Regions from separate parts of the Homo sapiens genome. Here region 2 is linked to region 1. Evidence: fine-mapped expression QTL. A gene starts in region 1. The other region holds a variant in brackets. All regions are shown on one strand. Distances are between the middles of the regions.

Region 1 (15,037 bases):
GGCAAGTAACTTCTCTTTGCCTCAGTTTCCCCACCAGTAAAATGAGGATAATTATGATACTGACCTCATGAGGTTGTTGTTTGGGGTTCCATGGTTCATTAGTTTGCCTGGCACATAGTAAGCCCCAGTAAATGTTACCATTATTAATGGTAGTGTGCTTTCTCTTGGAATTGGACATTGCAGAGGATGCCTTCAGCCTAGCCGTGGCCTCAGGGATCATTAAGGTCTTACTTTTCTTCCTGTCCTTCTCTTCCAGTGGTAATGGGAAACTGGCATCCTGGGCCTCCATCCTGGGATTTGTAGTGATGATGTCACTGGACGTTGGCCTGGGCTAGGGCTGAGACGCTTCGGACCCCGGGAAAGGCCATACGAAGAAACAGCAGTGGTTGGCTTCTATGGGACAACAAGCTTCTTTCTTCACATTAAAACTTTTTTCCTTCCTCTCTTCTTCATCTCATTATCCTGATTGACTCTGATTATAATAGAACCATTTTTACTTTGCTTTGAGGGAGATTTTTGATTTAATGGGGAATTTTAAGGTGTCATGGAAATACAGATTCTTTGTTTTGGCCACTGAATGGACTCTCTCTTCAGTGGGATTATCAAGGAACTTCAGATCAGGGAAATCTCCACTTCGGGACCTTCTATCTGCCTCCCAACTCCTCAAGGTCACCTATAGAAGCGAGCTACCAAAAGACGTCTCCTAAGCATTTTGGTGGCCTAGTGACTCAGGGCAGAGTGGCCAGCACACCTCTCATCCGCCCCTCCTGCTCCATCACTGCTGAGCCTCTCCCCATCTAGAATGTTGGAACTGGAGCATCATAAAGATAGCAAGCTACCTTCCAAGGCCGAGCCAGCCCAGAGAGGAGCATGTCTTCCTTTACCTCCCCCTAAGGAGATACTACATGGGAGGGGGACACAGAAAAAGGGAAGGAAATTGGCTAGTCTGGCTTTTTTTTTTTTTTTTTTTAAAGGCAAAGATTGACATTATTGAAGGAAAGGGGATGAGGACAACTGTGAACTCACAGTGAGCCCTGTGGAAAGAAGAGACAGACAGAGTGTGGGTTTGTTCGGAGGCCTCTGCTGTCAATGGATTCCAGGAGCAAGGCCATTTGTCGCGCTTTCCAAATTTCTTAGGCATTTATTTTGATAAGTTTATAGCCATCATGTTTCTAAGAGACTTGGAGACACCAGCAAACTGCTAGAACTCAAACTCTTCAATTACTCAAAGAAGGAGCCATTTCAGTTAACTCAAGTGAATGAAAGAGTTTTGGAATCTGCTGTGGGTCCTTCCCTGTTGACCATTTGGTAACTTATAATCTGACAAAAACTCTTGAGCTGCAACAGGCCTTGCCAGAGGGCTCAGGATGGGAAAGGAAGAAGGGGATAGGAAAAGAAGAGGTAATTTTACATTTCCCCTTTAAAGTAAATTTTAGCCAACTCATCATTCTGAAATGTCCCTATAAAGAATGAGTCGAACTAGACCAGAAGCCAGCCTACTCCTTCTTACATAGCTTCTCCAACAGGGGTAGCAATGACCTGTCCACTTCAAACACAGATAAGGCCTGCCATCCTCATTGGTTAAAGGCACACGTGAGACTTTCAGTGGGCTCTGCTGAGAAGGAAGGCAGCCCAGGAGTCAGGTATGCAGGCATTGCATTGTCAGTGTCTGCTCTCAGAGTTTACACATTCAATTGCTTCCAAGGGTGAATCTCCTGCTCTGTGAATGCTATCAGACCCCAAAGGCCAACCTTGGGCTGGGTCTATGTACGTTCTTCCGAAGCACTGATGATCAAAATTGAAGACACATTCAGAGGTTTGATTGGTTGAGATTAACTGGTGTGGTGGTTGGTGTATGTATGTTTTATTTTTATGTCTTTGTATGTAGTTCTACATAATGCAAATTGTGCTTTCTGATGGACAAGACCTCATAACTGTGATTAATATCAATAAAAAGGGGATGTTGTGGATGACCTGTGTTACGTTCAGTACTTCTCAAAGCTGCTTCTTTGCAAGGATGATCATAAAAGAGCTAACTAAAGTTGGAACTAACACCTCCCTGATCCAACACTAGGAGAGGCAAAGGAAAGAGCTCAGATGGGAAGGGCTAGTCAGATTCTTGGTTGCAACAACAGCATCCAACAGCAGCTTACTTAAACAGAAAAGGAAATGAGTGGAAGCCTGTTAGGGAATTCACAGGCTCTTTCGGAGAATCGGGCTTGAAAATGGGTTGGATCCAAGAAAGCCAGAGGTCTGGGGCCATGACCCAATCACACCTGGAGAACAGCTTGGTTTAGATGCCATGGTCCCCAGAGCTGGTCCCTAGATCCTGGACACCACTAATGAAACTGCTGTACCTTGATGCCACCACCACTGCCGCCACAAGAACAAACTCTACACTGAGCTGGATTCTTTGTGTCCTGGCTCCACATTCGAAGTTCTAGATCAGAACATCCAGCTGCCAGAGCTTAGATCCTGTGCCCATGAACTAGCTGATCTTGCCCCTTCCCAAGACTCGCAAAATAGTGGATTTTCCAAATTTGGGAATGAGTTCATATGGTGCAGAGCCAAAATAGAAAAAAAAAAAAGGGTCTATTAAGTTCATTACAGCCTTACTCTTTTGCTGTTCAATATCAACATATACTCTAATTCCTCTAGTTTTACTTAAAGAAAAAACTCTTGCTTAAAATATGTAGCTATTCCTCATACAATCAAAACTTCTTTCATTCCCTTTCCAACGGGGTTACCCCAATGTCTTTCAACTCCTGTACTCAAGGTCTGTGAGTAATGGATACCCCACCTCCGTGGGATAACAAGCCCATCTCATTATTCTGTATCTTTGAGCTGAAGTGTAAAGTTAACCATAACCGTTCATCCCATATACAATAAAACGAATAACGGGAGAGGAAAGAGAGGCAATGAGTTAAAATAGGATACACACAACACAGGAAGTACAAGTAGAAGCTACAGCACCCATTTCCTGCCCTAGAGAAGAGACCCTGGATGATGTTTAGGTTTCCCGCTTCCAGTTTCCATTCCAAGTCCATGCTGTCTTCAGCCAGTACCTTAGATGACTGGGGTGTGACCTACTAGCCGTGACCCTATTCCTCTTTCCTAAGGGCACAGAGACCAAGGAGGCCCTGCCCATATGCATGATGGTAACAGTCTTCCCTTAACTCCCACCGCTGGAGGAGGAGGAGGAGGCGGCTCCTGAGAGAACCACTTGAGTTTCATTCATAGCCTCCACCCTGGCCTGTCTCCCGTGGTATAGCAGCATTTTCCCAGGACTAGTCACTGCAGCCAGCCTTGTCAACCCACTTTTTTGACCTAATGGCATGTGAAATTCCAGGTGGCCAGCCCACATGTCCAGACTATTGCTATATCACTCTTTTTCTGTTCAACATCTATATTCACTCTAATTCCCCAAATTTCACCTTTTTAAAAAATGTCTGCTTTAATGGAACCATCACTCATACAAACACTTTATATCCCCTTTCCAAAGGGAGCCACCCCAACGGTCAGCTGCCTCAATGGTGCAACCTTCCTTTCCTGGGAATAAAATCGCTAATTGGTGGAAAAAAAGTTGAAGAGAGTGAGAGTCATTAAGTAAGATGGAAGTTGCACCGTGCCTACTTCCCCTTCCTCCAGACCTGTTTAGTCTGGCTGTGGGAGAAACGGCACCACGTGATGTTCCCTAGTTCAGAACAAACAAGCATCTTAAAGGACGATATTTCAATCTCCTTAGGTATGATCGTCTCTCAGTCCTGAAATGAAATCTTCAATAAATCATGTCACAGCTGAATACAGATGACTGCTTCTGGGTGACAGGATCCATTGACAAGGGTATCACCCACTGCTTTCCCTCTTTCACTGTAAAGTGAATTCCGTTGTCAGAAGCAATTTTGTAGAGCATGCCATGATGATCTACAGGCAGAGAGGTCAGTTCCAAAGTCAGACATGAGCCTGTTTCAGTGAAAAGAAATCACTGCCCTTTCCATAATGGAAGAGGTCCAAAGTCATCAGTCTGCAACTAAGTAGTCCATGGTGTCCCTGGAGTCTGGTCAGTTGCGGCATTCAGGGGTGGTCACTGATAACCCTGTGCACCCAGGGGCCAGGTCTGCATTGATAATGGAAAGCCTAAGTGATTGAATCCATCACAGTTCATGTGTTGCCAGCAAAGACTCTTCTGCTCATGAATCAGTTGAAGCAATGATGTGCCTGGAGAAAGAAATCATTACACATAAGCAGATGGCCTGGTTCAATTAATTATTATTAGCTTTTGCTATAGTGGGTATTTTGGATGATGTTTTACTCAAGAAACAAACATTTTCAAATTTGGCCCATTCTGAGAAGTGAAGCCATGTATGTCTTCCCACACCTCTCCTCTGTCATTAAACCTCCAGTCATTCTTCTTTCAAGTTTGTGACCTGTTGAACAGAACCCCCCATCTACACTGCTCAGAAGTTGGTGTAGCTTCTTGCATCAAATTTTCTTTGCTTCCAAGCAAAGTGGACACAGAGTTATGTGCTTCAAATTCTCCTCCCCAGGAGGTTCTCCCTCTCACCTGCTATCCTCACTGAACTATAACATCACAGTCACCTATTTAGAAGGTAGGGCCGGGTGCAGTGGCTCACGCCTATGATCCCAGCACTTAGGGAGGCCGAAGTGGGCGGATCATGAGGCCAGAAGATAAAGACCATCCTGGCTAACACAGTGAAACCCCGTCTCAACTAAAAATACCAAAAATTAGCTGGGCGTGGTGGCACCCACCTGCATTCCCAACTACTCGGGAGGCTGAGGCAGGAGAACTGCTGGAACCCGGGAGGCAGGGGTTGCAGGGAGCTGAGATCGCACCACTGAACTCCAGCCTGGGCGACAGAACGAGACTTCGTCTCAAAAAAAAAAAAAAAAAGGTAGGCAAGCATATGGTGTGAAGCTATCTGTAAATGAGGATCAGTGGTTTTTCCTCTCTTAGTCACTAGCTCTTGGGAAACCCCTTTGAGGCCGGTGTTAGATTGATGAAAGGGTCAGGGGTAGGCACACAGGGAATGATCTACCTATGCATATAATGCACTTGTGCCTTCAGTACCTGGTTAGGAGCTAGTCCCACATAAACCATTTCCAGTTGGTAATGGGATTTTATGAGTGTGTCAGATGGCCCAGTACATGACGGACAGCTTGGGTTGCAAATGACATGTAATACATTAGGGATAATCACTTGGCGTCCAGTGGTCAGTCCAGCTCAGAAGTCACTCCCAGCTTCTCCTGCTAGCACAGTCAATCCAGAATCTCTGCAATGTATATCAACAACATCAGACCAGTGTAAAATGATACCTTTCCACCCATTTATTAAGCACCCTTAGTTAGGAAAATCCCAAAATCATGTTGGTTTCTAATCTTGATCCTCGCTGGTTTGAGCTTGCCATTGTCCTTCTTTCTGAAGTGCTGGGATCTAACTGTCCATTCTGGAGACAGTCGAGGGTAATGCATGAGAACTGGCTTGCTCTTGCAGTGAGACTGCAAAGGATGCAAAGAAATGGCAGTGTCGTTACGAAGTGTGTCAGAAGACTGGAGAAGAGGGTTTCCGCTGACGAAGGAGGCTCTTTGAGGACTGGGTGATTCAGAGAACTTCAGGTTTTCCAAATCCTCTCATTTGTCTCCATTTGGATTCTCTGGGTCTTATCCCTTCCTGATCAATGCTTCAGCAAGGCCATGATTTTACCAGTGTAGAAATGTGGCCAGTCCTGTGGATCAAATTTTACCTTTGGTTTTCCCTTTTTGTTGTTGTTTTTTCTTTTTGAGACAGAGGCTCGCTCTGTCACCCAGGCTGGAGTGCAGTGGCACGATCTCAGCTCACTGCAACCTCCGCCTCCCGGGTCAAGCAATTCTCATGCCTCAGCCTCCCGAGTAGCTGGGACTACAGGCATGCGCCACCATGCCCGGCTAATTTTTGTATTTTTGTAGAGACGGGCTTTCACCATGTTGGCCAGGCTGGTCTCAAACTCCTGACCTCAGGTGATCTGCCTGCCTCTGCCTACCAAAGTGCCAGAATTACAGGCACGAGCCACGGTGACTGGCCGTTCTATTTTCTCAGTTGTATGGACTCAAGAGGGAAGAGGGTATTTCAGAACTGTCATAGGAAGCCCTTGGTTTGGTTTAAGTCTCTTCCTTCAGCTGGTAACTTCGGGACTTGAGCTTGCCAGTGTCTTTTTTTAAGCTGTGTGGCATGGCTTAACAGGACTGCCTGGCCGGCGCATCTGTAATCCCAGCACGTTGGGAGGCCGAGGCGGGCGGATCACGATGTCAGTGGATCGAGACCATCCTGGCCAACATGGTGAAACCCCGTCTCTACTAAAAATACAAAAATTAGCCGGCGTGGTGGCGTGCATCTGTAATCCCAGCTACTCGGGAGGCTGAGGCAGGAGAATCACTTTAACCCGGGAGGTGGAGGTTGCAGTGAGCCGAGATCACGCCACTGTACTCCAGCCTGGCGACAGAGTGAGACTCTGTCACAAAAAAAACAGGACTGCCTATTGGGCCTCATATGCTTGACTGTTTGATGGCAGAAACAACTCATTGGCTACAGGCTTTGCTTTGAATGGACCCTTCTTCCAGGTGACCGGTATGATGAGAAGTAGAGAGGTAGGGGCAGGTGTCAGCGTCTGGATCTTCTCTGGGATCCCAACAGAAGACATTTTCGTCCTGCTGTGCTGAAGACGGGACCGGAAGGCCATTGCTCAGGTATTCACTCTACCAGACGGGGCTTTACGCTCCCACCACTTCCTCGAATCCCCCGTGAGGTAGATATTATTATCCTGACTTTACCTGTGAGGACAGGAACGCAGTGGCGGGGTGGGTTCTCACTGTGCGTGGAGGCAGCAGGACGCAGAAATCGACCTCCCCCACGCGCCTCGCCAGCAGCTTTCAGTTTCGTGGCCCAACGCCCTGCACTGCACGCCTCTCCTCTGGGATAATTGATAGTTGAATCTGTGTAAGCTGGAAGCAAATGAGAGCCCAGCGGCTGTTCTTTCCCATTCCTTTTAGATTGAGGCAAAGGGACAAATCTGCGATGTGAATAATACAGCTCCAGGAATTTTTATCAGCGCGCCCCACGCCCGGCCCTGCCTGAGGGTCTTTCTAAGCCACAGGCGTCCCTTCCCAGGTCTTGTCTCTTCCCTTCCGCGAATGCCCTCGGCTCACCCAGCAGGCAGGTGTGATCCGGCTCCGCGCTGGGGCCAGGTGAGGCCGGGCTGCCTGCCCCGGTGCACGTTCCCAGGGCGCGGCGCCCAGTCGGCGGGGCCTGCGGGCTGGGCCTCCCCGGGGCGCCGGGCGTGGCGCCGGGGGCAGGTCCCCGGGCTGCCCTGCAGGGCGGCCGGCCGGCGGCCAGCGGCTGTTTACCTGTGCAGGGCGAGGCGAGACTCGTGGCGGTGCCGGGGCTTTGCACGCAAGGGGCGATGCGCCCCGGAGGGGGAGGGACGCAAGGGGCGACTACTGTTACCTCGCTTGGAGATACCAAGGCCGGTCGGACCCCCCGCTGGCCGAATGTGGGTAGGCTGCCCCCAGTTTGTCCCTTCCCAGGGTGGATCCAGATTTGGGGGCCGGAAGTGTATACAACGTGGGGAGCGCCCTTTGGGAAAAATAATACAGAAGTCCCAGTACAAGCTTAGGTGCAGGGCTTTTTTGGAAGGGGGCCTGTGAGTGAGGGTCCCCGAAGCCCAGGCTTCCTTGGCTTTTAGGTAACCTCACCTCTGAATCAGGGCAGGGAAGCCTGAGGTGCTCGGGGGTTTAGAGGCTTTCCAGACACTGCAGGAACCCTATTTAGTTAATTCACTTTTCCTTCATCTTCCACACACCCCAGCCCAGCACCTGGGAGAAGGGATGGCGCTGTGTTCAGAGGCAGGAGGAACCCAGCCCACAATTGTGCTTCTCTCTCCTGCCCTGGGAAGAACTAAACCCATCTTCCTCCTCCTTCCAGTAGAATGCGGGAGGCTGGGCCTGGCCATCCAGGGCTGAGCAAAACAGTAACCCTGAACCTACCTCTGGATTCTCTCCCGCTCTCTGACCTTCTAGCTCTCAACCCAGTGAAAGTGTCTGGACTCTGCCAGTGGCTTAATAGGGAAAGCGTCCTGGGGAGCCACCGTCTGTCCCCAGGGACTGTCACTGACCCCTCAGAGGTCCCCGATGGGGCTTCTGATGGAGCTGCTCGGACCCCAGACCTTCAAGAATCCTCAGGGTACGAGGCTACTGCCCTCTGCCCCAAGACAGGGAAGATGTGTGTGGGTGGAAGAGCTGGAAGTGTCAGAGGCATGTGAACCAGAACAACTCCATCTTAAATAGGAGCTGGGTAAAATGAGGCTGAAACTTACTGGACTGCCTATCCAGGCAGTTAAGGCATTCTAAGTCACAGGATGAGATAGGAGGTCAGCACAAAAATATGGGTCATAAAGACCTTGCTGATAAAACAGGTTGCAGTAAAGGAGCTGGCCAAAACCCACCAAAACTAAAATGGTCACGAGAGTGACCTCTGGTCATCCTCACTGCTACACTCCCACCAGCACCATGACAGTTTACAAATGCCACTGCAATGTCAGGAAGTTACCCTATATGGTCTAGAAAGGAGAGGCATGAATAATCCACCCCTTGTTTAGCATATCTTCAAGAAATAACCATAAAAATAGGCAACCAGCAGCCCTTGGGGCTGCTCTGTCTACAGAGTAGCCATTCTTTTATTCCTTTACTTTCTTAATAACCTTGCTTTCACTTTGCACTTTGGACTCACCTTGAATTCTTGCGGGAGATCCAAGAACCCTCTCTTGGGGACTGGATCAGGACCCTTTTCCTGTAACAGAAGAGCAACTGCTTTGTGTGGCCCAAGGAAAGATGTGTGATTCTTTGTAGAGGGTGAACCTATGGACCTGTATCCCAGCATCCCCACAGCCCGTGATCCTCCCCCAGATTAAAAGATCAGCTTGGAAATCATGCGGGGTCTTTTCTGATATAGTCTCCATTCTCTGGTGCACTATGAGCCACAATGATACATTTCTCATTGGCCTCCCTCCTCCTGGCAGGGAGCGAGCAGATCCAGCCTGTTTGGACGTGGTGAGGACCCAGCCGTGGGGTTTAAGGCCAAGTTAGCCTCTCCCTTCACTGATTACAAGAGCCATTGTTACAGGTGAGTCTTTGTCCTTAAAGCTCCCAAGATGGTGGCGAGCCGCTCCCATGATGGGGCAGGCAGCTCCCGAGATGGCGGCAAGCCTTTTGTTCTCCGACCTGAGGTTCTTGGCGTCACCGATTCCAAGGAATGGAACGTTGGGCCATGCGGTGAGTGTTATAGCTCTATTAGAAGCCGTGGGTCATGGAAGAGAACCATGGAACCCAGTGACTAGTGTTCAGCTCGATTAGGACGAACCCGGACACTTAGCCACGCAGGAACAGTGGTAAGCCTCTAGCCCGAACGGGAGTGGCAATGGGCGCCTCACTGGATCAGGAGCACAGCGGACACCCTGCTGGATCTGGAGGGGTGGAAGTCAGCAGTGGGTCTACGACAGTGGCAAACAGCAGTGGTGGACGGCGAGTGAAAGCTCAACTCGAGCCGTAACAAACACAGACCAGAAGAGTGTGCAGTTGCAAGATTTAATAGCATGAAAACAGAGCTCCCATACAAGGGAGGGGACCCAAAGGGGGTTGCCTCTCCCTGCTCGAATGCCTGGGTTTATATCCCTATCATCGTCCCTCCCCCGGTGCTCTCAGGCAATATATGATTTGAGTATTTCTTTACCTCCTGCTTTTAGCCTAATTTGTATTTTAGTGAGCCCTCTTTACTACCTGATTGGTCGGGTGTGAGCTGAGTTACAAGCCCCATGTTTAAAGGTGGGTGCGGTCACCTTCCCCAGCTAGGTTTAGGAATTCTTAGTCGGCCTAGGAAGTCCAGCTAGTCCTGTCTCTCACCATGACCTCCAAGAAGCCCAGGATGCATCAGGGAAAAGTGGAAACGTGGGGCAAGCCTGGGGAGCACGCAAAGAGGGGAGGCCCTTAGCCAAAGCTTGGGTTCCACTTTGTAGTTGTGCAGGAAGGAGGTCAGAGGTGTACCCTTTCTCTGACCTTTGCCTTTTAGGGTCGGGTTCAATGTGCACTTGGGTTTGCAGACTGCATTGGTCACCACCATGCCCTGGAGTGTGTCCCATGGAAAACAACAATGAACTGATTTAAGATTAGTAAAATTTAAATCTTTTCAAAGTTTGTCTTCAATTAGAACCAGCTCCCTTTCTGCTGTTTCAATGAAAATGCTTACTGAACTTATTATGTGAAAGTATAGAAATGTAAATTTTTGGCCAGGAGTGGTGGCTCACGCCTATAATCACAGCACTTTGGAAGGCCAAGGTGGGTGGATCTCATGAGGTCAGAAGCTCCTGATCAGCCTGGCCAACATGGTGAAACCCCATCTCTACTAAAAACACAAAAAATCAGCCGGGTGTGGTGTTGCGCACCTGTAGTCCCAGCTACTTGGGAGGCTAGAGTGAGAGGCAGGAGAATCACTTGAACCTGGGAGGCAGAGGTTGCAGTGAGCCAAGATTACACCAGAGTACCCCAGCCTGGGCAACACAGTGAGACTGTCTCAAAAAAAAAAAATGTAATTTTTTTCAGTTCCTAACAAGCCTGTAACACGGTTAAAAAACAAAGGACTGCACTTGAATAGATGATGTATGAGTCTGTACATTTCTTCCATGTGAACATTTATCATATTTGGTAAGTTGGTGGGAGACGGTCGTTGTATTCATTTTCTATTTGTGTGTGACAAACTACCACGAATCTAGCAGATTAAAACAACACGTGATTATTTCAGTTTCTCTCGGTTAGAAATCTGGACACAGTTTTAACTGGGCGTCTGTTCAGGGTCTCACAAGCTGCAATCAAGGGGTTGGCCTAACTATAGTCTCCTCCAGGGGCTCAAGTGGGGAGGAATCTGCTCCCAAACTCACTCCCATTGCTGGCAGTATTCAGTTCTGGCAGGTATGGGTTTAGGGACCCTGCTTCTTGCTGGCTGTGAGCTAGAGGCTTCCTTCAGCTCCTAGGGACATGGGTTTTTCCCAGCATGGCTGCTTACTGATCAAACCAGCAAGGAGAGCCCCTCGACTGAGTCAGCTAGTAAGTGAGGGTCTTATGTAATATAGCATAAGCATGGCCATGACATCCCATCACCTCTGCCATGGTCTATTGGCTCATAAACCCAGGTGGCAAGAATGGCTTCCATAGGTTCGTGGGCCTCTTTTTCATCCACCAGGATAAGCATGACACAGCAAACTACATGTGGCGATGATATGATTTTATTCTCTCTTTTGCATATTCTACACTTCAGAGTGGTACAATGAATGGATGAAAGAGATGTGTGAGCAGGGAAGGTACTGGAATCAAGGATACCCATCTGGACGGATGGGCTGTTCTGGATGAGCCCTGGGAATCCTGGCCTTCTTGCCCTCTTCTCCCTTGCGGGGTTACCACGGACCCATCTCCCAGAACTCTGGGTCAGGGCTGCGGCCAACTCTTGGTTTCTTCAAGGGCTTGAGGAACGGCATCCACATGTCCACTCTGTGTGCCCCTTTCTCTCCCACCCTGTCTGCTCTCATCAGCACAGTGGGGCTGGGCACAAAGAAGCTTCAGATTCAAGTTACCGTTTCCACATCGATACCCACTGGGAGGTGGCAGAGATGACTTCATTTTGGTCACCACCTTTATTTTGGTCCAGGAACTTTTTACAAATCAACTCCCCACAGGACCTATTCTGTGACAATGGCTATGAAAGCCTCAGTCATTGCTTGTTCTTTGCAAGAAAAAAATGGGACGGAAAGGGAATAGGAGACTTGGGGGAGACGATAACCAAAAGCCAGGATCCCACTACGATATCTACAAGAGGATATGGACCTACATGTCCCCCAAGGCTTTCAAATCTAAATATATACATAAATATTGATATACACATTTGAATATACATGTGTATAATTTATATATACATTAAAATATACTTTATGTATTAAAATATATGTATAATTATATATTTTAATATATAATTACATATTATATAATATATAATATGTATTATATGTTATATTAAAATATAAAATATATTAAAAATACATAAATATGTATGTAGTGAATAACATATATACACACACATACTACATAATCAAAACTTATAATAAAACAACAACAACAATCTTCTAAGTCAAAATTAAGCCTTAGTTTTCTTGCTTTGGGACCCAAACTTTACTAATAAGGGAGATATTGACAGAATAGATTTTTAAGTCCTCTGGCGGAGATTAAAATGGATCGTGCCCTGGAAACTAGCAAGGTTCACGAACCCCTGCCATCCGCCTTCCTGAGCTGTTTCCTTCCCCAGTGGGTTATGCCTGCTTGGGAGGAGGGGTGATGTAGGCGTGTGTGTTTGTTTAGTGTAGAATTCTTGGCAAACCTATCATGCTGGCAGGTGCTGAAAAGTAAAATCCTCTTTTTCCAATCCAGAAAAACTCCGATGCCAGCATGCCCGTTTCCCATCATCTTCCTCACAGCTCCACCAGGCAAAGAGCCATCTCTCTTAGTCCTCGGGAAACAGTGGTGGTATCTGGCTGAGTGATAGCGCTCGCAAGGTTAAAGGGAGGGTCAGGTTTGGGTGTTTTCCTCTGTGGGCTCTGTCACTGAAGATTCATTTCCCAACTGCAAAAGACAAGAATGAAAACGGGCAGATGGTTCGGCCTCCTTCTGAGGCTCAGGGTTGGGGTAGAAGAGGTGGGCTGAGGAAGCAGGAGGGAGGGGAGGTAGCGGGCATGCAGCTTGGCATCCTGGGCATCCCTATGGTGGTGTTGCTGCCACGTGCCTGGATGGACAAGCAGCATGGCGCTGGGAAAAGGCAAGATTCCTCAGGGGATCATCCTCAGAATTAGAGGCACTCAATGTGCATCTGTATAAGAGATGACAATGCCGATAGCATGGCAGATTATGATCAGCCTTGGCAGGGAGCTGCAGGCAGGGCTTTGTGGTTTGGAAAGCTGCAGCAAACAGGTAGGGCACAAGGCGCCCTCAGAAACACACCCTTCTCTTCCCAGGGCTGCCACCACCACCCACACCCAGCTTCCTCCCACCGTGAGCTCAGCTTCCATTTCCTGCCTCCTTTGACTGGTCAGGGAGGCTGGTGCCACCCATTTTGGGCCCTGAGAATATTACCCGTAACACGTGGTGCCCAGCTTTTTGCGGGCCCACTGATTTCCTGTGTTGCCCACGGCCCATTGATTGGTCAGCATCATTATCCACTTAGATTTTCTTGGCAGGTGTAGAAAGGAATTGAGCCAGCCCCGGGTGTTCGATGCTGAAATCAATTGAGAAGTAGGTTACAATCTTGCCAATCAGAAGGAAAGAGCATCTCTGCAGATGGATGTGTCTGTTACAATTCAGGTTCTGAACTGGTGGTTTTGATATTACATCTCTAATCTTAATCTCAACCAACACAACCTGCTAAGAACCAAACTAGCCAGAGGAAAAGATTAAGTAGATAACATTAGCTTGAACAATGCACCAGCTAAAAATGGAATTACGGCTCTCTCAAATAACATACAAAAGTAATAAAAATATCCTTGAGGTTTTTGGGGATGCTTTACCTTAGGGTACCAGGTGATTAAAAGAGATTGTTGCCAGCCATTATACCTGACCAGTTTGTCCTTTTATTTCTATTTTTTATTTTTTTGAGGCAGAGTCTTGCTTTGTCACCCAGGCTGGAGTGCAATGGTGTGATTTTTGGCTCATCACAACCTCAGCCTCCTGGGTTCAAGCGATTCTCCTGCCTCAGCCTCCCAAGTAGGTGAGACTACAGGTGTGCACCACCACACCTGGCTAATTTTTGTGTTTTTAGTAGAGACAGGGTTTTGCCGTGTTGGCCAGGCTGGTCTCAAACTCCTGACCTCAGGTAATACACCCACCTCAGCCCCCCAAAGTGCTGGGATTACAGGCAAGAGACACCACGGCCGCCAGGCCCAGTCTGTCCTTTTAAAACATACCTACTGCCCTGATCAAACTGTATCCCGTTTCAGGATAGTCAGCCTCCCATCTGATCACTAATTTTGTTAGACATAAGTCTGATACTACAGCAGATATATTTTGAGAGTAAATGTCACTAGGTTTTGCTCTGGAATCCTACCAAAAACGGTGAGTGCCAGCCTGGGCAACAGAGTGAGACCCCATCTCAAAAACAAGAACCAAAAACCAGTGAATGGTTTATTGTCTGACACCCACAGGAGCTCCCTCACCTTCTTACTGTCTGGTTACAAAAAGCAAAACCAAATCTGTTTTAGCCACTACAATTTCAAAGCAAGGCCAGATCTGATCATTTGCATGCATAAGTTTGTACACTCACTGATTTATTCTTTATGCTGTCTTGATCTTTAAACTGTGTTTTTGTTCAACCTTATATTATGGAGAATTTCAAACCTATGCTCAAACAAACAGAATGGTGTCATGAACCCTCATGTCCCCATCACACAGTCCAACAACCATCAACCCTTGGCCAGTCCTGCCCTATTCACTTCCCTCCTCCTCCTTGTTATTAAAAACAAACAGGCTGGATGCGGTGGCTCACAGCTGTAATCTCAGCACTTTGGGAGGCCGAGGTGGGCAGATCAGTTGATGTCAGGAGCTCGAAACCAGCCTGGCCAACATGGCGAAACCCCATCTCTACTAAAAATACAAAAATTAGCCGGGCGTGGTGGCACAGGCCTGTAATCCCAGCTACTCAGGAGGCTGAGGTAGGAGAATCGCTTGAACCTGGGAGGCAGAGGTTACAGTGAGTCAAGATCGTGCCACTGTACTCCAGCCTGGGTGACAGACTGAGACTCCGTCCCCCAAAAAATTAAAAAAAATATATAAAAAAACAAACAGACATCTTGTCATTTTATTCATAAACAGGTCAGTATGTATCTTGAGAAGGAATGGCATTCTTTTTTACATGACTCCAATACCATTATCACACCAAAAGAAGTGATACTATATAATTTAC
Region 2 (15,037 bases), 23 kb after region 1:
CAGGAGAGCAAGTGCAGGGGAACTCCCCTTTATAAAACCATCAGATCTCATGAGACATGTTCACTATCACAAGACCAGCACAGAAAAAACCTGTTCATGTGATTCAGTTACCTCCCACTTGGTCCCTCCCACAGCACGTGGGAATTATGGGAGCTATAATTCAAGATGAGATTTGAGTGGGGACAAAGCCAAACCATATCAGCCAGGAAGCACCAGGAGCTGGAAGAGGCAAGGAAATTTCTCTCCTAGAGGCTTTGGAGGGAGTATGGCCCCACTGACACCTTGGTTTTAAACTTCTAGCCTCCAGAACTCTGAGATAATAAGATCCTCTTGCTTTAAGCCACCAGAGGGTGGTAATTTGTTAGGACAGCCCTAGAAAATGAATGCACTGTCCAATGCTGGAAGAAGAGGGGAGGCTAGTACCAGCTGCATGCCTTCTTTTTCTCACAAAAGCCTAAGGTTTCCTAGAAGCATCTGAGCTGACTTCCTATAGCATCCAACTGGTCAGAAAGATGTAATATGGCCTGGGAAGTCTGGAAAAACAAAAGTAGAATTTAGTTTTTCCAAATGTGGCAGTTCTGAGTTTCAATAACACTCTATCTGCTCCAGTTGTAAAAAGGACCAGGACACACCAAGAAGTCAGCTTATTGTTCCCAAAGGCAGGAGATAAGGGAAGGTCTTCCTCATCTCTGCCTTTCCCTTCTTTTCCGACGACTTCCTTTCTTCTTATTTTCCCCTCCCTCTCCAGCTGCCTCCAACTGTATGTGACTCAAAGGATGCCATGAATAGTAAAAAGGCAATATGCAATGAACTCACCCAGTAGATAGTCTGTGCTCAATAAATTATGCAAGGAGGATGCTCAGAAAGCTAAGATTAGATATAAAAAAAGAAAGTTGAGAAAGCCTTTCTGAATGCTGAGGGAAATGCATGCAGCCTTAGATATGTTTAAGAATGGAAAAAAACAGCCGTGTGTCTCACCTTAGCAAGTGCTGCTGTCCTGGAGGCTGGGTCAGGATTTGGATCAATACTTCTCACACTTGAATGAAAAATCACTCATAGAGCTTACCAAATGCAGATTTCTGGATTCCAACTCCCCATCCCCGCTCACCAGGTGGTTCCAGGGCTCAGCCTAGGACTCTGCATGTTTAACAAGCCCCCTCGTGGAGTCTAAAGCAGGTGGTCCATCCACTGCCCATTTGCAATCGGGCTCCTGAGATTCGTTCCAGCCCCGAGATTCTGAAATTCTGCAAGAGCTGCCTGAATTGATTTCCAGATACTTTTGGAAATAAACAGCATATGGCTTTCTGGCTTTTGGGAAGCGACTTTTGCATAGCAGGCCTGCAGTCTCCCAAGAAGTTTCCATCAAGAGAACTCCCTTGTGTTTTCAGACTGCCTTGGGGCCAGGGGGCATACAAGGAAGGGCAGAGCGTTGCTTGGTTGTGGCAGAACAGACGGGAAGAATCATCTGTTCTTATAGGTCCCATAAGCCCCCAAGGGCGTGCACACAGACTCACAGACACCTGCTGGAACAAAGGGACAGGAGGCTCCTGCAAGGGCACCTGGACCTGCTTTCTGAGCACATGGCTCTAAGGAAGTGGGGGAATGATGCAGGTTAGAAACAGGGTTGGGGCGTTGTCACCTTTTAACACTCCAGCAGGGAAGGTTTTTCTGCCTTCTCTGTCAAGACCTGAAAAATGTTATACTGTTGAGTGAATTCTTCCATCTTTCCCACCACGCTTCAGATACATCTTCCCCCCTCACTGTGACCACTGCTGAAACTTTCTTTTACATAAATAAGACACTACAGAGAAAGCACATAGAAAGCGCTGGATATGCAATGGTCACTCTCCATTGTCCCATGCTGCCCGGACACCCCTCTCGGAGACCTTGCTCTCACAGGTCCTCCTCCCAGCCTGTTCCGCGCTGCTCCTCTCACCCACCCTCTCCCCACTGCCATTCCCAGCTCGGCAGGGTCTGGCCCTGTTTTATTGCCAGCCCATTTCCCGGCTACACAAAGGGGGCCTTTGTAACAGCTCCTTCCAGATGTTGAGTATTTGGAAAACATTCCGATCAGAAGGTGCTTGTCCTCTAGATGCCCTCGGAAAAGGAAAGAATCTGGGACAGGGATTTGGGAGTGGCGGTCCCAGGTCTCAGAGTGGGGCTTCCCTGAGGGAACTGGGGGAAAACTCGGGTGCTTTAGAGCATCGTTACTACCATCCTCATCAGTTTCATCCCAGTCAATTCACTCACCACTTAACCGATGTTCGGGCAGAGACTCCACACCTCACCCCCTCCTCTGCGGATGCCTGCGTTCCTTCCAGGTGACTGATGTGGTTGCATTCCTGCCTGATTTGATCCTCCTGTACAAGGCAAGAATTGTGATTCACACTCAAGCAAGACCGTAGCTTTGAGATGATGGGTGACTTTTAAATAGCAAATCAGGACTGGAACCTGGTGTTCTGATGCCAAATCCAATACTCTTCCATTACAACATACCTCCTCTTTGTGGAATTTCTTTGAGAAAAAACTACCAAGCCACTCTTTTGGGGTTCACCTGCAAGATGGCCAGATAGCCTACTATGACACCTCCTTTCTCTAGGGAACTCCAAGGCTCCGTTTCCCAGTGATTCTTGGAAAGTCAGGCAGGTCATCCATAAACAGAGAAATGGAGGCCCAGGGAGGTTGAACAGCTTGCCCTGGGCCACACAGTGAGTGAGTTAGAGCCCAGTTCAGGATTGGAATCCAACTCTAGAGGGTCAGATCTCATGGGCCATTTCCCAAAGCTTAAGTCATGGGAGATGGGAGAGGCTTAGTGCTGAGGTTCAGCCATTCTCAGCCAAGCCCAGCCCAAGCCCAGGCAGCATCCTCCTCCCTGGCTCTCAGGGCCTCCTCCTGGTTACGGGTTAGCCCCTCTGTTTCCTGTGTCTACCCTTTGTTTCAGGCTGGCCCCAGTATTCCATATACCTCATTGGCAGATGTCCCCCTTAACTTCTCTGGGACTTGGTTTCTCCCTTTACAGAGAGAAACTCATTCCCCTTTATAGAGGTTTGTTGAAATCCATAAAAAATGACAGCTAGATAGGAGGAATATATTCTAGTCTTCTATAGCACTGTAGAATGTCTATAGTTAACAGTAATATATAGTTTCAAATAGCTGGAAGGATAGTGAATGTTCCTGACAGAAAGAAATGATCACTGTTTGAGATGATGGATACACTAATTACCCTGATCTGATCACTATACATTATATGTGTGGAAACATCACCATGGACCCCAGGAATATGTACAATTATTATTTGCCAATTAAAACATTTTGTTTTAGGCTGGGCATGGTGGCTCATGCCTATAATCCCAGCACTTTGGGAGGTCAAGGTGGGTAGATCACTTGAGTCCAGGAATTTGAGACCAGCCTGGGCAACATAGCAAAACTCCATCTCTACTAAAAATACAAAAGATTAGCCAGGCATGGTAGCACACACCTGGAGTCCCAGCTACTCAGGAGGCTGAAGTGGGAGGATCACTGGAGGCCAAGAGGTAGAGGTTGCAAGTGAGCCAAGATCATGCCACTGCCCTCCAGCCTGGGTAACAGAGCAAGACCCAGTCTCAAAACAAGATAAATTGTTTTAATACAAAAAAAATAAAGACCAGGGAGACCTCAAATGAGAAGGACTTTGGAGGCAACAGGCATGAGAAACATATGATAGGAGAGAGCTGCTTCAATAGGGTCAGGTTTGAATATTGGCTACTCCACCTACTGTCTCTACAGCCACTGAAAAGTTGCTTTTCTCTTCTGCAGAGTGGGGCTAGTCATAATGATGATATCTGGCTGGCAGCCATTGGGAGGATCTCCTTTAGTACTCAAAATAGGGAAGATAAACCATCCCTATTTGCCCAGGTTTGAGAGGTTTCTTGGGATATGAGACTTTCAGTACTAAATCCAACAAAGTCCCAAGCAAATAGGGATGAATTGGTCACTTTGCCTTAAAACAACCCATGTTTTTGATGGGTCAACTATGAATGAGAATTTACAGTGGGGCTATGATAGCTTGGTTTATTTTTTGGTTTTATACACACACACACACACACACACACACACACACACACACACACACACACACCCTTTCCTGCTATCCTTGCACCGTGGTGTTGGCCTTGGCCGTGTGATGTGCTTTGGCTGATGGAATGTTAGCAACCACACCAGGAGTACTAGCTGCCAGGTACTTGTGCACTTTGGCTTGGTTTGGGCTCCTGTGGTCACCTGAAGAAGTGTGTGTCCCAGGTTACAACAGGCCCTTCAGTCTTGGCTTGAGAAAAAACATGAGTCGACTAGGGCCCGAATGTGCTAGACTGTGTTAATCACCTCCCTGCGCTGCCCCCCACCAACCAAGGAATCACACGGACCTCAATTCATGGCCCTTTGCAGTGTGACGTTGCCACTTGTGTCATCAAGAGCGGGAGTCTATTTCTCTACCATCCCACACCTGGGGGCTGCCTTGTGGCTTGCTTTGGCCAATAGAATGTGGCAGAAGCAAAGGGTGTGGGTTCTGGAGCCTAACCCTTGAGAGATCTTGCATGTTGGACTCCCACCCTTTTGGAACCCTGGGTCCACCATATTGTGAGGAAGTCTGTTTAGCTTGCTTGAGAAGAAGCCACGTGGAAGAGAATGGAAGAGCCCCAGTGGGTAACCAGCACCAAACTGCTGCACAGGTGAGGTTGTCTTGGACCCTACCCACATGAGCGAACCCAGGCAAGATCAGCAGATCAGCCCAGGCAACCCAAAGAATCATGAGAAAGAAATCGTAATTGTTGTTTAAGGTACTAAGTTTTGGGGTAGTTATACAGCAGTAGATAATGGATACCAACCCATGGCTTGGGATCCAAGCTCCGTCAATAGGCATACTCAAGCTAAGCTGCACATTGAGTCCATTGTAGATCACAGAACCACAGTCAGCCTTGCAGGACTGCAAATGCAGGATGAAATATCCCTTGTTTTAAGCCACTGAGTGTTCCAGTCATTTGTTTGCAACAGTCTTGTGTCAACAGCTGATTGACACGAGGGATTCAACCCTAGGAACGCCTGACTCCAAAGCCTGTTCTTAGCCTCATCACAATACCGTGCTGTTGTCCCTTAGGCCATGAAACATCTAAGACATATTGATCTCAGTTCCCAACTATTAATACATTCCCAGGCTGTTCAGAAGTGCCCAGAAACCCTTTGTCAAACATGGGTGCCATCATTGTAGAGCCTTCCAGATTGTTAGAAAAAGAAAGGAGTGGGGATTATGTGCTGAAAGAGATGGACAAGGAGCTATTTTGTAAACTCTATAACATTTGGCAAAGAATATATCCTTAAATACAAATTAAAATAGCTTAGGTCATACCTAGGAGTGCCGAGGCAGAGAGAGAACACTGGAGGAGCAGGGAGGAAAATATAGAAAAACATGTTCGTGACTTCAGGGTAGGGAAGTTGCAGACTCCATATAACATAAATATATTTTTATGAAGTTCAGAAATAAAGCTAAGCATGTTATTTGGGGACATGTACATATGTATTAAAACCACAGTGAAAATAAAGGGAGTAATAAAATTCAGCGTGTTTGTTGTTCTGGGGAGAAGAGAGAAGGGCAACTGAGGCCGGGTGTGGTGGCTCACAGCTGTAATCCCAGCACTGAGGTCAGGAGTTTGAGACCAGCCTGGCCCATCTGTACTAAAAAATAAAAAGATTAGCCAGGCATGGTGGCACGCACCTGTAGTCTCAGCTACTCGGGAGGCTAAGGCAGGAGAATTGCTTGAACCTGGGAGGCGGAGGTTGCAGTGCACCAAGATCGTGCCACTGCACTCCAGCCTGGGCAACAAAGCGAGACTCCATCTCAAAAAAAAAAAAGAAGAAGAAGAAGAAGGGCAACCTGAAGGACTGCATAAAGAAAGTCAGAGTGGCCAGGTGCAGTGGCTTGTGCCTATAATCACAGTACTTTGGGAGGCCGAGGCGAGAGGATCATGAGGTCAGGAGATTGAGACCATCCTGGCTAACATGGTGAAACCCCATCTCTACTAAAAATACAAAAAAATTGGCCGGGCGTGGTGGCAGGCGCCTGTAGTCCCAGGTACTCGGGAAGCTGAGGCAGGAGAATGGCGTGAACCCGGGAGGTGGAACTTGCAGTCAGCTGAGATCGCGCCACTGCACTCCAGCCTGGGTTACTGAGCAAGACTCCGTCTCAAAAAAAAAAAGAAAAAGAAAGTCAGAGTGAGGCATGGATCATCTTCTAGATCTTCAGTTGGGTGGTAGAGTCCAGGTTTTCATTTTACCATTTTATATAAGGGTAGCATCCTCATGGGTGGGGTATACTGTGATGCTTAGGTGTGTGGACGCTGAGTCTGAATCCTAGTTTGCCACTCATTAGAGTCTTACACATGCAACTTAACCTCTCAGTGCCTCAGTTTCCTCATCTGTAAAACAGGTGTTGATGGCAACAGTACCTACCTCGTAGAGTTATTAGGAGGAAGTGCTTGAAACCGAGCCTGTGAGTTACATGTTATTAAATATATAGCCACCATTATACAATAAAATTGATTGAGTCGGGAGAGGAGACTCATCTGTGCTCCTTCATTAACTCAACACTGATTATGTATCTGCTCTCATCGGGCATAGGTGCTCACATGCCAGGAGAAATAAGCTGGTGATTTATGTGGCACAGCACCATCGATCGACCTACAAAGGAAGCTTCAGTGCAGCCGTGTTGCTATACAGACCTCTCTCACCAAGGC[G/A]TCATGAACTGAAGGGCTGGGAGAGGCCTCGTGGAGGAGGAAGAGTTTCGCTCAGCTGCTTGGGTGTGGGACTGAATGTGGTTCCAGAACTGGTCGCTGCCTTCACCCGCTGACTCTGGTCTCGGCGATGACAGTGAGTTCCTTCTTGGCGCCTTCAATGGGAGGGATTGTCGTGCACTTGGGGAGGAGTTGGCTGTGGAGTTCAATCATTAATTTGCCACAATTAAACCAGAGACTTCTGTCTCCAGCAGCAGATAAGCAAGCAGAGAGCTAACAACGAGGAAGGGCGGGGCGGTCTGACAAACCGGTTGTGAAGGGCAGGCTAGGCTGATTGAGAGCTGATAGGGGACTGTCATTGCTTTATTGTGGCAATAACGCCGTCAGGCATCTGGGGAATTAGGAGGGAAAGCCTCAGCTGGCATTGGCTGCAGGCACAAAGGGGGAAAACCCCAGCCAGACTTTTTCAGTCTGCTGGGCCACCAGAAAATGTTTTGGGGTCCCCGAGGTACGTGTGAGGCTGAGAGTTGGTGATCAGCTCCCCCGGTTCCTTCCTGGCTGGGCTACATGAACCGGGGACAGCTGGAGTGTTGAGTTTTGACATTCCCAAAGACAAGCAGCTAAAGTCAAGAGGACTGTGTCACACAGAGATGGTGATCAGGGGAATGGAGTCCCTCGGAGGCAGGGAAGGAGGCAGGCAGCCTTAGGTTAGACTCCAGGAAGAACTGTCTCCTGAAGCAGTGATAATTGGAACAGGCAACATCTGTGTGCTTGCTCTGTGCCCAGTGCTAGGTGCTTTCCATGAATTCACTAATTCCTGAAACCCACAGGTAGGTCCTTTTATTGCCCCTCTACAGAGACGAGAAAAACTGGGTCTTGCTGAAATTAAACATCTTGCCCAAGGTAACGTAGCTCCGAAGTAGCAGAGACAGGAATTGAAATTGCAGAGCTTCCTCTCGAAGCCTCTAGATGCTAGCCTACGTCTTCAAAGATGCCCATCAATCAGAGATGTAGGACAGTCTTATCTCTGGAATCTTCCTTGGTCTTCTTGTTCTGGCATTGATCAGCTGGTGTGTCATACACACACACACAGGCACACACGTACACACACACATTATATATATGCATACATGCCATGCATACACATCACATACAGGTACAAGCACACGCATATGCACAAACATTGCACATCACACACATCTACACACACATTACATACATGCACATGCACATCACATACACGCACACACTACAGATATAATCCCTCCCCAACTCCTCCACAGCCCCCCACCACAAACCTTTAAGGTACTGACATGACTGTAACAGAGTCATTGACCCTCAGTGGATTCTCCACCCCTGGACAACTGTGGAAAGACCAGTGGCATTCCTGGGAGTACTTTGACGGTTGTACAGGGCCCAGCAACTCTTGGCTGCCACAGCCCCCTGAAAAACAATGGCCTTGAAGTTGTCCACCCTCACTGCGCTGGGCTACACTCATTGGGTCATGCTTCATTTTTGCAGAAGGCCCTTCTGTGAGTACTTTAAATTCCTGAAAAAGCTCATTACATTTTGCCATGGTCCTGAGATGGTGACTGGGGACTGTCCCTGCTCTCATTGACTTGACTGAATTGAGGTCCAGATTAAGCCATAAAACAAAACCCAAAATGCAACCTCCCAAGCCCCCAACATGCCAAGACTGGCAGAAATTCTGAGACCAGGTAAAAGATGCTGCGCCCCCTCAAGTCTGTTCAATGATCAGGCGGGGACTAGGGAATGCTGGTTTGACTGGTGGGCTCCTCCCCTGCCTTCTCTGTTGGGGGTCGTGTTTGCTTTGTGTTCTTGGCCACAGGGTTAGCAGGAAGGAGATCACCAATGCATCGTTGCATGTGCTGTTCTTTGATTTTTCTCCATTCTTCACCCTGGAAGAAGGAGTGAATTTATGGACCTGTTATGGACTGACAGATGCCCTCTGCAGAATTAGAGGCAGCCTGGGATGGAGGTTGGGTTCTGAGACTTACATCTTGAGCAGGATTTCTCAGTCTCAGCACTGTGACATTTGAGGCTGGATCATTCTTTATTATTATTATTATTTTGAGACAGAGTCTTGCTCTGTTTCCCAGGCTGGAGTGCAATGGCTGGATCATGGCTCACTGCGACCTCCACCTCCTGGGTTCAAGCGATTCTCCTGTCTCCACCTCCCGAGTACCCGGGATTACAGGCGCCTGGCACCACACCCGGCTAATTTTGTAATTTTAGTAGAGATGGGGTTTCACCATGTTGATCAGGCGGGTCTTGAACTCCTGACTTCAGGTGATCCAGGTGATCCACCCATCTCGGCCTCCCAAAGTGCTGGGATTACAGGCATGAGCCACCACACCCGGCCTGGATCATTCTTTATTACAGGGTTTTGTCCTGTGCCTTGTAGCGTGGTGAGTAGCATCCTGGCCTCTACCAACTAAATGCCAGTACCACCCTGGCTTCCCAGTTGTGACCATGAAAAACCTCTCCAGACGTTGCCCAGTGTCTCCAGAGTAGGGGGAGGGGCAAAAGTGTGTGGGTTGAGGAGCACTCATAGAGACGACTTCAAAGTTTTGGAGCACGACTGACTTCCTGCCAACAGTCACTCTGCCCCTCAGTCCCTTTGCTTCTCTCTCCATCCTTGCCCTTCCCATCTGTTCAATGGGCACTTCGATGGCCATGAACTAAACCATTTACTCTGTGAGTCAGGAGGAAAGCAAAACCCCAGCCACATCTCACGCTGGAGAAACAGGACTTTCTTTCCTTTCCCCTCAAAGTTCTAGTTTTCCGCAAGGTCCCCAGATGGCCAGCTGAGAGCCTCTCGTCCACTCTGCAGGCGGGGACAAGCAAGCAACACAAACACCCTCTGTCCTTCCTCCAAAGGGAGAAAAGAGTTTTCCTCCCTCCCTCCATCCTTCCCCTCCCCTTTCAGAAACTCTTGGGTTGTGTTCACCGCCACCCCCGCCCCCGCAACCCGGCCCCACTCAGTCCGCTTACACTGCCGACCCCTCCCCAGCCATTCCCCGTTCACTTCCCTCCCCTTCCCCTGGTACACCTGACTTATTTATTTATTTATGGCTGGAGTATTTGAGCTCAGGGTTAGTTCGAGTCTATTAAGTTTGCTCCTTTTCCTGCCTGGGAACCCGGGTAATGAGTAACCATAGCGTGCTTTGGGCAGCTGTCTCCGACAAACCGAGAGACGCCGTGGGAGCCGCATAAGGGAGCGTTTGTTCTGTGCCTTCTCAATAGTTCCTTGTGCAGGAGGCAGGGTGATGGGAGGGAGGGAGGGAGAAGGGAAGAAAGAGACAGACACTAAATCACTGCACTTTTGACAATTCCTCTCTTCTCTCCCACCACCCATCCTCCCCCACCTACACCGATCAGATCTTTGTGGTGGACTTAAGACTTTAAGACTTTTGTTGCTGTTTCCATGAGCCTGGGGAGAGGCTCCTGTGTACCTCGTGGGGGTACTTTTGGGTGAGTTGCAGACTATATGGGGCCTGAGGGCTGATTTTTAACATGGGGATGGTTTAGGTGTCCTGGATCTCTCCCACTGTGTGTGTAAATTAACACAATGCCTATTGTTCCCTAGTTCATTTAATGATCCAATAAATCTCTAGGTATCTATTCCCAACCTTGTGGCCTAGATATGCTATAAAGCTGTTTGAAAAGTGCTTTCATAAAGCAGTCCAAGTGTATTACGGGATTAGTCATATGCCCCACAATCAACATGGGACTCGTTAGGGCCTTCCTTGATTTGTATCATTATGTAGACAAGAGAGACAGGCCAAGAAATATATTGTACATACGGCTTTTGGAAAATATCCTAAGTGATAGCCACATTCATTCATTCACTGCATGGGGATTTAGCATCCACTATGTGCCAGCTGTTTGGCTAGGTCTCAGGGGCAACTACGGAAATGAACAGGGCATGACTCTGGCTCTCAAATTTGCAATGGGGTAAGGAAAATAAGAAAGAACCCATGTCCCCGAATTACGGTAATATAAGTTAAGCTGGAATATGTGCCATAAGAAAGGTACAAGCAGAATATCTAGAGAGAGGGGAGGAGGGAAGATGAAAATATTTTGGGAGCATGAAAGAAAGCTTGGCTTCAGGAGAAAAAGATGAAGGGCAGCCCCTCCTCCAGGCAAAGGAAAGGTTTTAGCCAAGAAATGAAGGCAGGCAAGCATGGGGCATATTTGGGGAACAAGGAAGGGCTGGGTTGGTTGAGACATGGGCAGATGAATCACCATCCATGCTGTGTTTTAGACAGATTAATCAGGCTGTGGTGTGTAGGGTACATTTAAAGGGGAAGAGATTAGAGATGACAGTTAGAAGTAGATGCCACCGGTCTAGTTGGAAGAAAATGAGAAAAGACAGGATGGGTAAGATGGTGGAGTGTAGGATTGTGGAGGGAGGGGGTAGCAACTGACCACATGTCGAAGAGGGCACAGTGGAGGTAGCCCTGAGGCTTTAAGCCTGGGTGGCCAGGAAGAGAAATCTGGAAAAATAGCATGACACATCATCAGGAGGTCCAAGAATGGTTCAGAACTGAGTAGCAGGATCAGTGGTCTGGTTTGGATGTGCTAGATCTGAGAGGCACCGAGGGACAGATGTCTGAAAGCCAAGTGGCAACAGAGGTCTAGAGCTGGGGGGGATGTCAGGGGCGCTGTCTCTCCCTAGCATCCCCCTCTAACGCTGGCACGAGAGTGGAAACTCACCCTTGAAACGTGAGCTGGATCTCCTTCCTTTGCCCATCCAGATCTTGTCTCCATTTCACCCCTGATCTGTGCCCCAAGAGCTGCCCTTGTAGGGATTGCATCAGCAGGCTCCCTTGGCCACTGGATTCCAGCTGAGTTCAGCAAGTGGAGCGAATAGCAGAAGATTAGAGGGTGGAAGGAAAGTAGCCTCAGTTTCTGGCAGGCTGTCCTTTCTCCGCAGCTGCTGTCTCTGGGTTCTGGAAACATTCTGCTCTCCTTGCCCCGTCTGACTTCAGAGGGTGGGGGTCATGCCTTCCCACCACTGCTGGCCCCATGAACCTGCACTCTCCCTTGTTGGTTCCTTGAACTCTGCCCATCCCATAATACATCATCTCTGTCTTAAGCTCTTTTCAGTCCCCCAAAGTGGTTGTGCTGTTTGTATCCTGTTAGGACCCTGATTCATCCAAAAACTGGAGTCAAAAGTCACACAGGGCCGGGCACGGTGGCTCACGCCTGTAATCCCAGCCCTTTGGGAGGCCAAGGTAGGCAGATCACTTGAGGTCAGGAGTTCGAGACCAGCCTGGCCAACATGTTGAAACCTCAGCTCTACTAAAAATACACAAATTAGCTGGACGTGGTGGTGCATGCCTGTAGTCCCAGCTACTCAGGAGGCTGAGGCAGGAGAGTTGCTTCATCCTGGGAGGTGGAGGTTGCAGTTAGCCCAATCACGCCACTGCACTCCAGCCTGGGCAACAGAGTAAGACTCTGTCTCCAAAAAAAAAGACACACAGAACAAATCCTTTTTCTCTTCTTTTATGCATGGTATTTCTGCTCAAACAGAGGCCTTATAATAATGGAATGGACAAATAATTATTACAATTGAGAAAAGTTTCATCAACTGAAGCAGTTTGCAAATTTTCTAGGTTTCTTCTATCATTCAGATTATTAATGTACCAGTTGTTGATCTCTTTCTCTTTAACATTTCTGGAGTTTTCTCTGTCATCCTTTGTCGGCTTCTGACTTCCCCAGGGGACTTCACATCTTTCTTTTAGTGCTGAGGTGAGTTGCTCCAACTGAAGCTCCTCTTTTTGAGCGGCTTCCACCTTCGTTCCTCTGGCAGTGCAGAAGCAGGCCGTTTGCCCTGGTGAGCTACCTCCAATTGAACCATCATCATCTGAGCATCAGAGAATTCTGAGCAGGAAAATTGAGACTTGTTCCAATTTATTGAGACTTCTTCCAAAACTTAGGAAAATGTTTAGCCGGAAGATAGTCTGTAAGTATCTGTCTGTTTTAAAATACAGGCATGCACACCATGCCATGATAGCTTTCCCGTCTCAGTAGTTGCTGTGACTGTCTTTGTGTTTTGTTTTGTTTTGTTTTGTTTTGTTTTGAGACAGAGTCTTGCTCAGTTGCCCAGGCTGGAGTGCAGTGGCGTGATCTCGGCTCACTGCAAGCTCCGCCTCCCAGGTTCACGCCATTCTCCTGCCTCAGCCTCCTGAGTAGCTGGGACTACAGGGACCCGCTACCATGCCCAGCTAATTTTTTTTTTTTTATTTTTAGTAGAGATGGGGTTTCACCATGTTAGCCAGGATGGTCTCGATCTCCCGACCTCATGATCCACCCGCCTCAGCCTCCCAAAGTGCTGGGATTACAGGCGTGAGCCACCGCGCCCGGTCATGTTTTGTTTTTTGAGACTGAGTTTCACACTTGTCGGCCAGGCTGGAGTGCAATGGGGTGATCTCAGCTCGCTGCAACCTCTGCCTCCTGGGTTCAAGCAATTCTCCTGCCTCAGCCTCCCAAGTAGCTGGGATTACAGTCACCTGCCACCATGCCCAGTTATTTTTGTATTTTTAGTAGAGACAGGGTTTCACTATGTTGGCCAGTCTGACCTCAGGTGATCCACCTGCCTCGGCCTCCCAAAGTGCTGGGATTACAGGCGTGGGCCACTGTGCCCGGCCAGCTGTGACTGTCTTTATCATGACCTCTTAATGCATGGATTGGGAGCTGCAAGGAGTAGATCCCCAAGTGGGACTAGCATGGATCCCAAGGTATTTATTGGAAGGATTATGTCAAAACAAAGCAACAACAACAATCAAGAAAGAATGAAATATCAACCGGAAGGACAGAAAGAATATAGTCCATCTTCTGGGCATGTGTGGAATGAGTTTTCTCTGCACGGAGCTTTCTTCTCTCTCTTTACAGATCTGCTTTCTTCATTTGGGAGGAAACATGAGCACCCTCTTGCCCTTGACTTTTACATCTTGCAGCTTTCACTGAGGGCGAGCTTCCCTTATTCGGTTCTAGTCAGCCAAATCTCAAGGCAGGACTCTGATTGGATTAGCTAAAGTCAGATGCCCATCCTTGGACCCGTCAACTGTAGCCAAGGGGAGGAAGAAGGCCATGCACCAACAGAGCTGCTCCTGCCAGAACCGTGGGACGAGGTGGGAAGCGTTGTTCTCAAAGGAGGAGCGGGTACCAGGCGGAATAATTTGCATTATAGGTATTCTAAAGCAGCAATTAGTTTTAGAAACAAACTTATCACATAAAGAGACTCTCAGCTCAACAAACACTATTTGATATATTCACAATTTAATAGAAGCTCTCAGTTCAATAAACAAATATATGAACTGAGTAACTGCAGTGTTGATGTAGGAACAAATCATTATTTTCTGATTGTTGATGGACATGATAAGCAGAGTCTACTACTGAGATGGGAAAGCCATCATGGCACAGTGTGCATGCCTGTATTTTAAAACAGACTGACACAGACTATCTTCCAGCTAAACATTTTCTTAAGTTTTGGAAGAAGTCTCAGTATACTGGAAAAGGTCCAATTCTCCTGCTCAGAATTCTCTTCTGTACAGTGCTGGGTGCATAGTATACATCAGAGAAATCTGCTTCTAAAGGTGATAAATAATAGGTGTGTTAAATTAGTAAATTATATTATCTACTGGAAGTTGATAAGTGCTACTGAAAAAGAAAAGGAAAGCAGAGTTGAGACAATCTCCAGTGCTGGAGGGAGGCATGGCCATTGGGTTGCAATTTTAAATAGAGGCTGAGAGCTCTTTAAAAAGGAGACATTTGGGGCCGGGCATGGTGGCTCACACCTGTAATCCCAGCACTTTGGGAGGCTGAGGTAGGTGGATCACGAGGTCAAGAGATCGAGACCATCCTGGCCAATATGGTGAAACCCTGTCTCTACTAAAAATACAAAAATTAGCTGGGTGTGGCGGCCATGCATCTATAGTCCCAGCTACTTGGGAGGCTGAGGCAGGAGAATCACTTGAACCCGGGAGGCAGAGGTTGCAGTGAGCTGAGATTGTGCCACTGCACTACAGCCTGGTGACGGAGTGAGACTGTGTGTCAAACAAGCAAGCAAGCAAACAAACAAACAAAAAAAGGAGACATTTGGCCAGGCACAGGGGTTCAAGCAGCATTTTGGGAGGTCAAAGCGGGAGGATTGCTTGAGGCCAGGAGTTCAAGACAAGCCTAGGCAACATAACGAGACCCTCATCTCTACAAAAAATTTAAAAATTAGCCAGGCGTGGTGATGCATG

Evidence for each region. PIP is the estimated chance that this variant, and not a neighbour inherited with it, causes the effect.
Region 2: its variant is the best candidate, but not a certain one, in a credible set for the expression of LINC00511 in blood mononuclear cells (TOPMed, PIP 0.78).

The regions. Positions count from the first base shown.
Region 1 is chr17:72,632,882-72,647,918 of GRCh38, reverse strand. It overlaps LINC00511 (long intergenic non-protein coding RNA 511), which reads left to right and starts at 7,447. Exons shown (of 5, transcript NR_033876.1): 1 at 7,447-7,548; 2 at 9,069-9,172. It overlaps LOC105371887 (a long non-coding RNA gene), which reads right to left and starts at 7,244. Exons shown (of 4, transcript XR_934961.3): 1 at 7,201-7,244; 2 at 6,826-6,996; 3 at 5,090-5,291; 4 at 3,454-4,218. It overlaps SLC39A11 (solute carrier family 39 member 11), which reads left to right. Exons shown (of 10, transcript NM_139177.4): 10 at 257-1,970. The coding sequence ends at 335. It overlaps LOC107985005 (a long non-coding RNA gene), which reads right to left. Exons shown (of 3, transcript XR_001752991.2): 2 at 13,216-13,357; 3 at 12,239-12,708.
Region 2 is chr17:72,610,176-72,625,212 of GRCh38, reverse strand. LINC00511 (long intergenic non-protein coding RNA 511) reads left to right here. Exons shown (of 5, transcript NR_033876.1): 3 at 6,649-6,897. Among named protein-coding and RNA genes, the nearest start is that of LINC00511, 23 kb to the left of the region's middle. The variant G/A (reference allele first, on the strand shown) is at 6,765.